Linked DNA regions of Homo sapiens: region 1 is linked to region 2. The links come from fine-mapping of genetic effects on gene expression. Tissue or cell type: whole blood. Region 2 holds a variant in brackets; the other region holds the start of a gene. All regions are shown on one strand. Distances are from middle to middle.

What was found. PIP is the estimated chance that this variant, and not a neighbour inherited with it, causes the effect.
Region 1: it holds the start of NTNG2, and the variant in region 2 is fine-mapped to the expression of NTNG2 in whole blood (INTERVAL, PIP 0.95).

What each region holds. Positions count from the first base shown.
Region 1 is chr9:132,159,738-132,165,478 of GRCh38, reverse strand. It overlaps NTNG2 (netrin G2), which reads right to left and starts at 3,421. Exons shown (of 8, transcript NM_032536.4): 1 at 3,240-3,421. It overlaps LOC124902291 (a long non-coding RNA gene), which reads left to right and starts at 3,779. Exons shown (of 2, transcript XR_007061826.1): 1 at 3,779-3,863; 2 at 4,876-5,021.
Region 2 is chr9:132,101,926-132,108,522 of GRCh38, reverse strand. LOC105376302 (a long non-coding RNA gene) reads right to left here and starts at 5,303. Exons shown (of 3, transcript XR_930403.1): 1 at 5,216-5,303; 2 at 4,717-4,810; 3 at 3,941-4,351. The variant C/T (reference allele first, on the strand shown) is at 3,390.

The DNA of each region.
Region 1 (5,741 bases), 57 kb before region 2:
TGAAGACTGCCAAAGAGGTAACAATGCTTTGTGAGTTCAGATTTTTCTGATCAAGGCCAGCATTTTGCAAATCATTCTTAGAGGGTAGGTCTATAAATGGGTTACAATTACGATTATTGCTGTGCTATTTTAAGCTTCTGTTAATTATTTAAAATCAAAATAGATATAATTAATATATTATATCAAAATAGATACCAGTTACATGAATGTTACATTGGGAAATAACACGACTGCAGTACTGTGGTGTGTTCCAGACACTGGATACGTCACCCGGAGAATCCAAGTCCAGCCAGCATGGGATTCTGGCCAAAAATATTGGCCAATAGGGCAAAGGTTACTGCAGTAAAAAAGTGCCTGCATGATTAATTATTCTGGTTAATATGTCTTCGATGATTGCATTTGATTTCCCAAACCACCCCAAATGTCCAGTCTGGACCTGGCTCTCCCCTGACATCCTCTTCACCTCCTGTACTTGCAAGGCCCCTGAAGAGTTAACTGTGTTTCCGTGAAACTCCATTCTCCACCCAGACAGAAAAACGCTCCTGCCAAAAATGACAAACCGAAGTGGCGGACACTTGCTGCCCTGAGCGCCCTGAGCACCTCAGGCTCGGAGCAGCCCCCAGCCAGGGCCCCAGGGCTCCAGGCATGGGACTCATTCATCTGAGTTAGGGCGACCCCTGCCCCTCTCTCTGGGTGAAGGACTGCTGATGGAGATGAACGAGAACCCAGCCAGGACCATTTTCCCCGTCTCACCTCTGGCTGTTTAAAGGGGAACCTGTTACAGAGCCTGCCTGGCCTTGAAGGCGCTCCTTGCTAGAAAACTCTAAGACAGAACGTGCCCGGTGTCTATTTTTGCAACCTGAGAAAATGTAGTAAAAATAAAATAGCGCCGCCGGCAAAGGTTTGGATGCCTCTACCCGAGCTCGCGCTGCCCAGAGCACAGCACGTTCCTAATTAATTCTTCCAGCAGTCGACTCCTAACTGTTCACTAACAGGTAGGGATCTCCTGGCTGCTGGGACAACCAGGACGCCGGGCTGCGGCTTGCAAGGAGGGCGCAGCTGCAACCTTCCTTCAGCTGCAGGACCCGCGGCTGCTCGGGGCTTGCAGGGCGCTGGACGCCGCCGGGCGCGGGGAGGCAGCGAGGCCCGGAGGCCGGGAGGCTGGGGCGAGCGGCGCGCGCGGCGCAACTCGCAAATCTATTAATTGCAGTCCTGTTGGTTTAAATGCCACGCATTCCCTGGAAAATAAATAAATTTAAAAAACCCTAACAACAACAAAATCTGCCAGGGGAAAAATGTGTTTACAACTAGTCAATCAATTGGGCGTTGCTGGCATCGCAGGGGGAATTACGAGCTCAGCACACGAATATTGCAGGCGGGTTCTGCCAAAAAGAAAAAAGAGAAGGGGGAAGAGAGGCAGGAGTCCCCGGATAACGAGGAGGAGCGCAGAGAGTGAGGAGTCGGCAGGGAAATTTTCAGAGTAAGAAGCTGCATCCCGGAGGATCGTTTTCTCCGTGGAAAATTTATCTTCACCTGATATTATTAAGAAACTGCAGCTCCCAGAAACAAATAGAATCAATGTGCTTTATTTTCTTTTAAGAGTCCTCAGGAACCAAGGGGGGCTGATAGCCAGGGTATTAAAACTCGAAAATTAGATTTTATCAGGATTTCTGAACTCAGATTTCTCTGTCTTATTGAATTAGCGCCTCCCGAGCTGGCTGGGCTCGCCAGCAGGTTCCTCTTGGAGTTGCCTGCTGCGCCCTCGCCGTGTGGGAAACTTGCCGCGGCGGGCGCGGGGCCCCTGGGGGCACGGGAGGGAGGGCGCTGGGGGCTCCCGGGGCTAGGGGGGATACTCAGCCCACCCCGGGGTTCCCTCTCCCTCCTCGGCAGGGGCGGCAGAGGGGGGTGAAATCTGCTTTCAGGGGAGAGTGGCGGTTGCCGGGAGGGAAAGGGAGCTTGGCCGGCGGGGTCACCTTCCCGTCCTCTGCCCCGGGCGGGGTCCAGCGGGCGCCCCGCGCTCACTGTAGCCTCGGCGGGCCTCTTAATTCCGGCGGCCCGGGTGTCCCCCCGCTCCGGAGCGGGCCCTTTATCCGGCCCCTGGGTCCCCGCCCGCGGGAGCCCTGGAAAGTTGGGCGCGGGAGGCGGGGCGCGAGCAGCAGCTCCCGGGTGGGTCCCGGCGGGCCGCGGGCGGGGTCGAGGCCGGGGCCAGGGTCGAGTCAGTGCTTCGGGCCGGCTGCGAGCCCTGTGCCTAGGACACCGACGACCCGGCAGCCCCGCAGCTGCTTTTCGTCTTCCCAAAGTTGCGTGCAAGCCACGGCAGCAATTAATAATTAAGCCCGTAATAAAGGCCCGGCCGGGACTGAGGCGCCCCCTTTTTCGGCACTGCCTCTCTTAATTAAAAGACACAGAGCAGGGCGCCCAGGAACTGGCTGTATCCTTTGCCCCGGCGCTGCCGCCTGTGGCGACCCGGCCGCCGCCGCCCCCAGCCCAGACGGCCAACTTACTCCGGAGCGGGCGGACCCCGCGAGCCCGCGGTCCTCTCTTCCCGCCTTCCCGCCGCCTCTGCTCCCCCCACCTGCGCGCCGCTCAGTTCCAGGTTCGACTCCACGCCGGCCCCAAACCAGTGCCTGCGCCCCCTCACCTCCCGACCCCCTCCCGGCGCCGGGAGAAGTTTCCAGCCGGACTGGCCGGGAGTTTCTCTGTGCAACTCACAGGCTCCCAGTTTGCAGAGAGATGGGAGGGCACGGGATGGGGGTGGCTCTAAGCGGTGGCGGTGGAATTGGGGTGGGGGAGAGGCGCGGGAGCAGGGTTAGTTTCCTTTTCCGAGACACATCCGAGCATCCTTGCAACATCCCTCCCCGACACACACACACACACACACACACACACACACACACACACACACACACTCTGTCTCTCTCTCACACACACACACACACACACTCTCACACACACGACGGAAAGGACCCGGGGGAAGCTGGCCAGAAAGACAAGCTACCCCTTTAAGATGCTGCTAAGAACGCACCCTCACACACCCCTCTGGGGCGACTCCAGTTCTCAGCTCGTAGCAGCCGCCACCAAACAACTTTTGCATCCGAGCCTTTGCCGGGCCGCTGTAAGTGGCTCCCGGGCCCGGGCAAGCCTGCATGGTCACCGAAGCCCTTTAAAAATGAAACCGGCCTGGCCAAGCTGCAGCCTCTCCCCCCGCCCGCCTCCCGGGCTCTCCCCGCCCGCCTTACCCCGGCTCGGAGCGGCTTCCCGGCGCGGAGACCTGGGAGGGCCGAGGACCGCCACCCTCCGGCGCTGCGCCTCCCCCCTCGGGCTGGCGCTGGGTGGGGGCGCGGGCCGAGGGCTGCGAGCCGCTGCTCCTTCCCCGCGCCGCTCCCGCCGCTGTGGCCGCCGCCGCCGCCGCCGTCAGATCGGGGCCAGGGAGCCCTCCGGCCGCCGGGGGGGCCGCCCGCAGCCGTCCCGGAGACGCGGGCCGGGGGAGGGGGCCGCCCGCGCCGCCCGCATCGCCCGCCCGGGCTGAGCGGGAGGTCGCCGCTAACAAGTGCAAACTTTTTGGCCCCCCTGGGCGGCCCGGGGAGGACCCGCGCTCGGGCGCCGGGCAGCCCCCGGCCCGGGTGGGCTTCGCGGCGTCTCGTCGGGGAGCCGGGGCATCCCCCCGGCGCGGCGCGGGCCAGATGGCGGGCGCTTCACTGCCCCCCTGCACTCCGCTCCAAGTTAATGCCGAGGCTAAATCCTCTTGCCATCACTCACGATCACCATCGGGGCTTTTATCTCTCGGTCTGATCCGGGCTGCGTAACTTCCTCTGTGTGGCTTTAACACACCATCCCACCACGGAGCAACGGTCTTCTTAAAGGTGCAGGAAGGAAATATTGCGCGGCTCGGGGGACGCGCCACGGCCCGGGGAGGGGCGCGGCGAGCAGGGGCGTCCCGGCGGGCCCGTGGCCAGGGTGGCCCCGGCAGCCTCTGGGGGGTCGCTGCCTAAACATCGCCTCCCGGCCCGGGGGCCAGCGGGTCCCTGCGCCCAGAGCGCATCCTCAGCCGGCTCCGGTCAGGCGCAGCCGGGCTGCAGCTTCCTCTTCCAAAACCCGGGGGCCTGCCGGGGTGCCAGCGCCCATGGGTGTGGGGGCTGCCCCATCGGCACGAGGGAGGGGGGCCAAGTGAGTCAGTTCCCCCACCCCCCACAGCCAAGGGCTCAGGGCTGCTCCTCGGTCTCTCTCTGTGAAGTGCTGCCACCCAGAAGGCCCCAAGCAGTGGGTACCGGGGTGGGTGGGTGGATTTGGGGAGATGGGGAGGGGGAGCGATCTGAGCGCACAACCAGAGCCTGAATACCAGCTGACACATCGCCGCCTCCACCCTGATGGGCCCTGCTTTTGACGAAGCCAAGCCAGCTCTGCAGGGAGTGCAGAGTAGTGGGGCAGGAGGGGCCTGGCTGAGGGGTTCTCTGTCTCCCTCCCCTGCAAGCATGGGAGGCAGGTGTGGGAGGGCTCCGGTAGCAGCAGCCCCGGGCAGAGGCCACCGAGTTCACAATATCATATCCGGCAGCCCTGGGCTCTCTGATCCCCAGGAGGTTTCCTGCCAGCCTGCCTCCCAGGGCTTCTGGGAGAGTTTCCACATCTTCCAGAAGCACATGTGGTTTTCGGACACTCCTGGCCTCCTGGGGTGGGCTCACTGCAGCCTTGAGCAGCCAGCACTGTCATTTGGATGCATCAAGAACAAAGGGCCTGAGGACAGACAGAGAGAGAGGCAGAGAGAGAGAGACCAGCCCAAGGTCACAGAGGGTGTTGGGAATGGAGCAAGACATGGCACCTCAGTGCCCCGCCCTGCTGCCACCCTTCACCTCCACCTTAACCCTTCCCTGTTCTCAGCTGCCCTGAAAACTGGAGACGGAGTTATACTGCTGAATAATATTTGGAATCTTGTGACAAAACAGGAAGAGGATGCAGAATTAAAGACTGTCATCTGCTGTAATAATAATAATAATATATTTATTGAACACCTGTTTTATGCCAGACTCCATGCAAACCAGTTTGTGTGCATTATTCACTGAATCTTCGCCAAAGCCCTGTGACTTCACTGCTAGTAGCAAAGCCTCAAGTTAGAGATGTTAAGTAACTTGCCCAAGGTCACATAGCTAAGGATTGTGGCCGGGGAGGCAGGGCTTTTGGGTTTCTGGGTGATGCTCTCTCACTGGCCTGGCTGGCTGGTGAACTTGGAACACGGCCCAGACTGCTTTGGGGCTCAGTTTCCCCATATGTGAGATATGAACGGTAAATCCTTCTTTTTTCAAAGAGGGGTCAAAAAACAGGGCCATTGTGTGCCTCTACCTGCACATGCTCTCAGATGCCTACCACTGGAGATGGGCCTATCTCACCAAGCAGCCCAGGAAGGCAGACATGGGCCCACCCCTGGTTACCTGTTCTATGCAGGAGGAAGCTCCTTGGGAGAAGAGAACAGATCTTGGTGGTTTGATTTTTAAGCATTCAGCCTGCAGGCAGCAGTGAAGGGCAGGGTGTGGGGCTCCTGCACAGGGTGAGTGATGACCAGGGTCAGCCCTCAGCCTGCTGTCACCCCAGGGCATGGTCATCAATCCCTGGGAACCACCCTGCTCCTCCATCATCACTGTGGACTGGATGCTGTCAGGAATGGCCAAAGAGATGGAGGAGCTGCTTCTTACTTGTAGTTCATCTAAACACAGTGGAGGAACCAGGGGTGCCTCCTCCCTAGCACTGCC
Region 2 (6,597 bases):
CAAGCAGTGAGTAAAAGACAGAAGCAGGATTGTAACACGGGGGTCTCTGATCCCAAAGCACGGGCAGCACCATCGCCATGCTTTGCACCTCCGGTGGACTGGCCACATCAACATTACTTGGCCGCTTGTTAGAAAGACACCTGCTGAATCATGATTTGCATGTTTAATAAGTATTGAGGTGATTCATTTACACATTCAAATTTGAGAAGCACTGAGCCAGGGAACTCATACCCCCAAACAATCTCACTCACAAACACAGGACATACCTTGGAAATCAAAAAGATTCATTACATGTCTCCATCCTGTCTTCAAGAGTGTTTCTGAAATGCTATAATACAGAAGATTCCCTCCCACCCAGAGTGAGAAAACACTGAAGTGGTAAAAATTTAAAAGGCCGGGTTGGGCTGGGCATGGTGGCTCATGCCTGTAATCCCAGCACTTTGGGAGGCTGAGGCAGGCGGATCACCTGAGGTCAGGAGTTCGAGACCAGCCTGGCCAACATGGTGAAACCCTGTCTCTACTAAAAATACGAAAATTAGCCAGGCGTGGTGGTGCACACCTGTAATCCCAGCTGCTCAGGAGGTTGAGGTAGGAGAATCGCTTGAACTCGGAAGGCAGAGGTTGCAGTGAGCTGAGACCACACAGCTGCACTCCAGCCTGGGCAACAAGACGGAAACTCTGTCTCAAAAAACAAAATTTAAAAAATTTAAAAAATTAAACGTCCAGGTTGCCTTCAGGGCATGCTGATGTGCCCTATAGTACCCTCGTGTGCTATTCAGGCTGCTTAGAGATTTGAGGGTCAGTGTGCGAGGGGAAGGGGAAATTTGTATTTACAAAATTGGTGGCTGAGGCTGAATGCTCAGTTCCACAGTGGAAGGAAGAGGGGGCCTGTTTTTAGGAAGGAAGTAGCAGCAGTTCTTTTTTTATTTTTCTCCTGAGACAAGGTCTCACTTTGTTGCCCAAGCTGAGTGCAATGGTGTGATCACAGCTCACTGCAGCCTCAACCTCCTGGACTCAAGTGGTCCTCCCACTTCAGGCTCCCAAGTAGCTAGGACTACAGGTGCACACCACCACACCTGGCTAATTTTTAATTTTTTTTTACAGACAGGGTCTCACTATGTTGCCCAGGCTCGTCTTGAGCTCCTGGATGCAAGCAATCCTCCCACTTCAGCCTCCCAAAGTGCTGGGATTACAGGCATGAGCCACCATGCCCAGCCCGCAATTTTAATATAATTGGTCAAACGTCCTTTTTCCCTTCCCTTCTCAGAGGTGCCAGTGCAGAGCTGCTGGCTTCGTGTGGGTCTAAAACCGCTCAGCTCAATTCTGGAGTTCAAAGACACCATTAATTAACTCAGAAATCATTGACACGAGGCTACTCCCAGGTTATGCTAATCTGGTGAAATCTGTAAACCCTATAACCTTACAGGAAGTCAGAGCTGCCACTGGCCCACTCAGCAGCACCTTTGTGCCAGTGAGCAAAAGGTGCTCCTCGCCCCCCCGCCCCCCAACCAGGTAGATGCAGCCCCAAACCATGTTGTTGGAATTGGTGCTGTGGTTCGAATGTGTCCGCTCCAAAATTCAGGTGTTGCTAGTGTGATAGAATTAAGAGAGATGGGGCCTTTAAGAGGTGATTAGGCCATGAGGGGTCCTCCCTTGTGAATGGGATTAAGGCTCTTACTAAAGAGGCTTCACACAGCCTTCAGCTCCCTTGCTCTTCCGCCTTTGCCATGTGAGGACACAGCGTTGCCCCCCACCCTGCCCGGAGGATGCAACAATAAGGTGCCATCTTAAACACAGAGACCAGCCCTCACCAGACAACGGAACCTGCAGGCTCCTAGAACCTCCCAGCCTCCAGAACGTCCAGAGAATGAATTTCTGTTATTTATGAGACACCCAGTCTCAGGTATCATAGTAGCGTTAATCAACTAAGACTTGGTGAATGGACTACAGAGTGGATTTTTGTCACCTGCGCATTTCCACACCCTCAAGGGCACCAATATCGCATGAGAAGCCCCTGTTGCAAGTGGGCCTGTGGCATTCCACCTTTTAAAAAGGTAAAGGGACCCTGAATAAATACATAAGTCATTTAAGGCTTGACAAACAGCTCTTGGAACAAGGGCATGAAAACAGGTGATTCTCAGGGTGATGTGTGGGGTTGAAGAGAGACCCACGGAATCAAGAAAGAAAGAGCCAGGCCAGGCTTGGTGGCTCATGCCTGTAACCCCAGCACTTTGGGAAACTGAGGCAGGCAGCTCACCTGAGAAAGGGAGTTCAAGACCACCCTGGTCAACATGGTGAAAACTAAAAAAAAAAAAAAATTAGCCAGGAGTGGTAGTGGGCACCTGTAATCCCAGCTACACAGGAGGCTCAGGCTGGAGAATAGCTTGAACCTGGGAGGTGGAGGTTGTAGGGAGCCGAGATTGCACCACTGCACTCTCAAGCCTGGGCGACAGAATGAGACTGCATCTCAAAAAAAAAAAAAAAAAAAAAAAGTAAGAACTAGAAGAATCGAGTCAGCTAAGGTCCTATTTTCCAAGGCTCTTCCCCATGTCTAAGAAAATTAATGAAAGACACACCTTTTTGCAAAAACCATAAACTATATGACTTGTGCATGACAAAAAGATGGAGTCCATCCTGCAAATATTTCAGAACTTCCTAGCTAGGTGGGGGTTTGGGGAGCAAAGAAGCTCACAGATGTGTGTTCTTGCCAAGCATATTGCACACAGGTGCTAGGGATGGCCAAGCCCTCAGGGGCTTGAGATACTTGGCCAGTGTTTCCCAAAATGTGTTCCATGGAACTATAATCCCATCCATTGCTTCTTAAAAACAGGTGCAACTGTCAAAAGATATAAACTTCTTTGGGATGTTTACAATGAACATTATTGAGCATTCTTGCCCATTTCCTTTGTTTAATTCAGCATTTTCCAAACATTTGACCCCAGACACACCCTGTCCCCACACCTGCTCTTTAACATGTTACCATCCACCAATGCTAGTTAGTTCCCTACGATGTGGATTTTGATTCTGTGGAGAATCTGGGGAATAAGCTTATTCCTTCTTGGGTTCAAATTAGAGACGTCCGCTGTTCACGGAGCTCCACACTGAATTTCCTTCTCCCTTTGAGAACGTTCATCACTTAAAGTCTACTCTTTCAGTGTTTTGATAGCACATCTCACATGTTTTTTTCCCTTGAAAGCCCAGTACAATTTGATGGTGACCGTCCTTTTTTTTTTTTTTTTTTTGAAACGGAGTCTCGCTCAGTCGCCCAGGCTGAAGTGCAATGGTGCGATCTCAGCTCACTGCAACCTCCGCCTCCCGGGTTCAAGTGATTCTACCGCCTCAGCCTCCTGAGTAGCTGGGATTACAGGCGCCCACCACCACGCCTGGCT[C/T]GTTTTTGTGTTTTTGTAGAGATGGGGTTTCACCATATTGGCCAGGCTGGTCCTCAACTCCTGACCTCAGGTGATCCTCCCACCTCGGCCTCCCAAAGTGCTGGGATTACAGGTGTGAGCCACTGCGCCCGGCCATATTTTAAAAGAGGATAGAGGACGCCATCTAGGGTCACCTGCCATTCTCTTGTTCTCAGGCTAGGAGTGACCCATGTTCTTTGAACTCTTCACCACTTTTCTTTGTGACTGTACTGAGCTCCAGGGTGTCAGAGCTGCAGAGCCTGAGTTCTGCCTGGGGTCTTGCTCAAATCCCTCCTACCTCTAGGAACCCAGAAGCCCCACCCAAAGTGACCCTACATGACTTGGGGTGGGGTGTGCCAGGAGTCAGCCCTCTCAGGAGCCACATACCCATTGTTGATGGGAGGCGACATTTTCTTTTGTTCCCCAACCCCCCTGCCAGGAGCCATGCCCCTCTCTTGAGATTTTCTCTGAGTTGGAGACTGAAGCAGAGAGTTGAGGACCTCAGAGGACAGAGGGTGTCTCTGGCTGCCGGAGCAAGCTGAGCCATATTAACATTCCCATTGGGTGTCAGGAGGGTGGGATCCACTCAGGTCCATGTTGCAAGGAAGTTTCTCCATCACCCCCTGCCCCATCTCCCTTCAAGGCTGGAGTGCAGTGACTATTCACAGGCATGATTGTAATGTACTATGTAGCCATGAAGTCCTCCTCTCCACCTCTCCCACCCAGCTCCATCCCAAGAAGCTTCGTCTCTCCCAAGCTGACCCCTTCACCAGGGCCACCAGGCCTGCTGGGAGGACTCTGGCACTGACAGGTGCCTGCCGCTCACAGGGCCTGTCTGCCACCGCACTGTGATGGCTGGGGAGGGTGAGGGTAGAGGGCAGAGGACTTCTTGCCTCACAGGTGCTCCCACAGGTTCGATGTCCTTTGCTGAGGTCATCTCCCTCCTGTGATTTAATGAGGCTGAAGTCAGAGAAAACCCAAAGATGCCAGAGGGGCCGCCTCCTCCCAAAACCCGCCAATGCCTCCTTTTTCAGAGAGGATTTTCTTCCCTTCTCTCCTCCCTTTAAAAAAAAAAAAAAAAAAAAAAAATATATATATATACATATATATATACACATATATATACACACACTATATATACACACACTATATATACACACATATATATACATATGTGTGTATATGTGTGTATATATATGTGTGTGTATGTATATATATATATATATATAGATATATAAAGAAATGCATGTACATAGTTTAAAAAATCAAGTAGCCCTATAAGGTTTATTCTAAAAATAGCCCTACTCACTGGTGCTGATCCCTTGTCCCAGAGGCAGCCACCTTCAACTCTTTTAGCTTTATCTTGATGTTTCAGCTTTAAGCATCATATAATCGACTACCTGCTATAGAAAATGAGGATTTAGTTCTTAGGCACAGGCACACACACGTTTATCTTATCTCACCACCCCAAGATCACAGGTTCTAGTTAAACCAATATTCAGTGTTTACTGTCCTATGACTTGGGAAAATATTATATGCCACTGACTACCCAATGCACTGTGATTGCGTTTTTTGGTACAATTTCATTTTTCTCAGAGTTAGTAATTTTGATGGGTTTTTATATTTTCAATGTAGTTGCTAATTTATCTCTGTCACAACTCTAAAGCTTTTGTTAATATAATTAAAACTTCAGAACCTATTAGTTCTGTGTCTTGCTTTAAGCCCTCTATCCTGGGCTGCAATCAGCCTGGTTGCTGTGCTGGGCCCTGTGCACACCTGTGGTCTGGGTCCTCTGTAATAACATTTACCTCTCTCTTCTGTTGCATCCCCTGTTTCCTGGATTCTCTGTTTTCCACTTTCTTGGTTTACTCTCTCATTTTGATGGAGCACGTCCTCTAGTAGCTTCTTGAGAAAAGATGCATGGAAGGAAAATTCAGTGAGACCAGGCATGTCTGAAACATACTTAGTCCACACTTACACTTGATTGATAAAATTATCAGCTGGAGGCTGAGTGCAGTGGCTCACACCTGTAATCCCAGCACTTTGAGAGGCTGAGGTGGGAGGATAACTTGAGTCCAGGAGTTCAAGACCAGCCTGGGCAACATAGTGAGACCCTATCTCTAAAAGAAAAAAAATTATCAGCTGGACATGGTGGTGCATACTTTTAGTCCCAGCTACTTGAGAGGCTATGGTGGAAGGATAACTTGAGGCCAGAAGTTCAAGCCTGACTAGTGCACTACAGTCGTGCCTGTGAAGAGTCACTGCATTCCAGCCTTGGTAACATAGCAAGGCCCTCTTTCTAAAAATAAAATAAGATTATCAATAAGTTCTAGGTTGGAAATATTTTTCCGCAAGATTATGAAGGCCTGTGCCTTCTTCCAATTTCCAGTGATGATGTTAGAAAGTCCAATGCCTGTGGGCAGATCACCTGAGGTCAGGAGTTCAAGACCAGCCTGGCCAACAAGGCAAAACCCCGTCTCTATTAAAAATATAAAAATTAGCCGGGCACGGTGGCGCATGCCTGTAGTCCTAGCTACTTGGGAAGCTGAGACAGGAGAATTGCTTGAACTTGGGAGGCGGAGGTTGCAGTGAGCCGAGATTGTACCACTGTACCCCAGCCTGGGCGACAGAGCGAGACTCCGTCTCAAAAAAAAAAAAAAAAAAGTCCAGTGCCTGATCCTTGATCTTTTGTGTATGACATTCTGTCTTTGGAAGCTTTTGACATGATTTTACACTGGCACTCTGAAGGCTCTTTAAATCTGGAAATGTTTGCCCTAAAGTTTTGGGAAATTGTCATGTATTATTTTTCTTTGATAACTTCTGCCCCTCTATTTTCTCTCTCTCTATCTCTTTTTTTTTTTTTGACCTGGAATTCCTCATTTTGGATATTGAACTTCCTGGACTGTTGTAGAGAGAATAATGCCCCTCTACAGATTTCCACATCCTAATCCCCAGAACCTGTGAATATGTTACCTGACAGGTGAAAGGAACTTGGTAGAGGTGACTACATTAAGGATCTTAAGATGAGGAGATTAAGTTGGGTTTAATCAAACAGCAAGGATTTTTTTTTTTTGAGACAAAGTCTTGCTCTGTCAACCAAGCAGGAGTGCAGTAGTGCAATCATAGCTCACTGCAGCCTCAGACTCCAGAGTAGTTGGGGTCACCAGTGCCACCACACCAGGCTAATTTT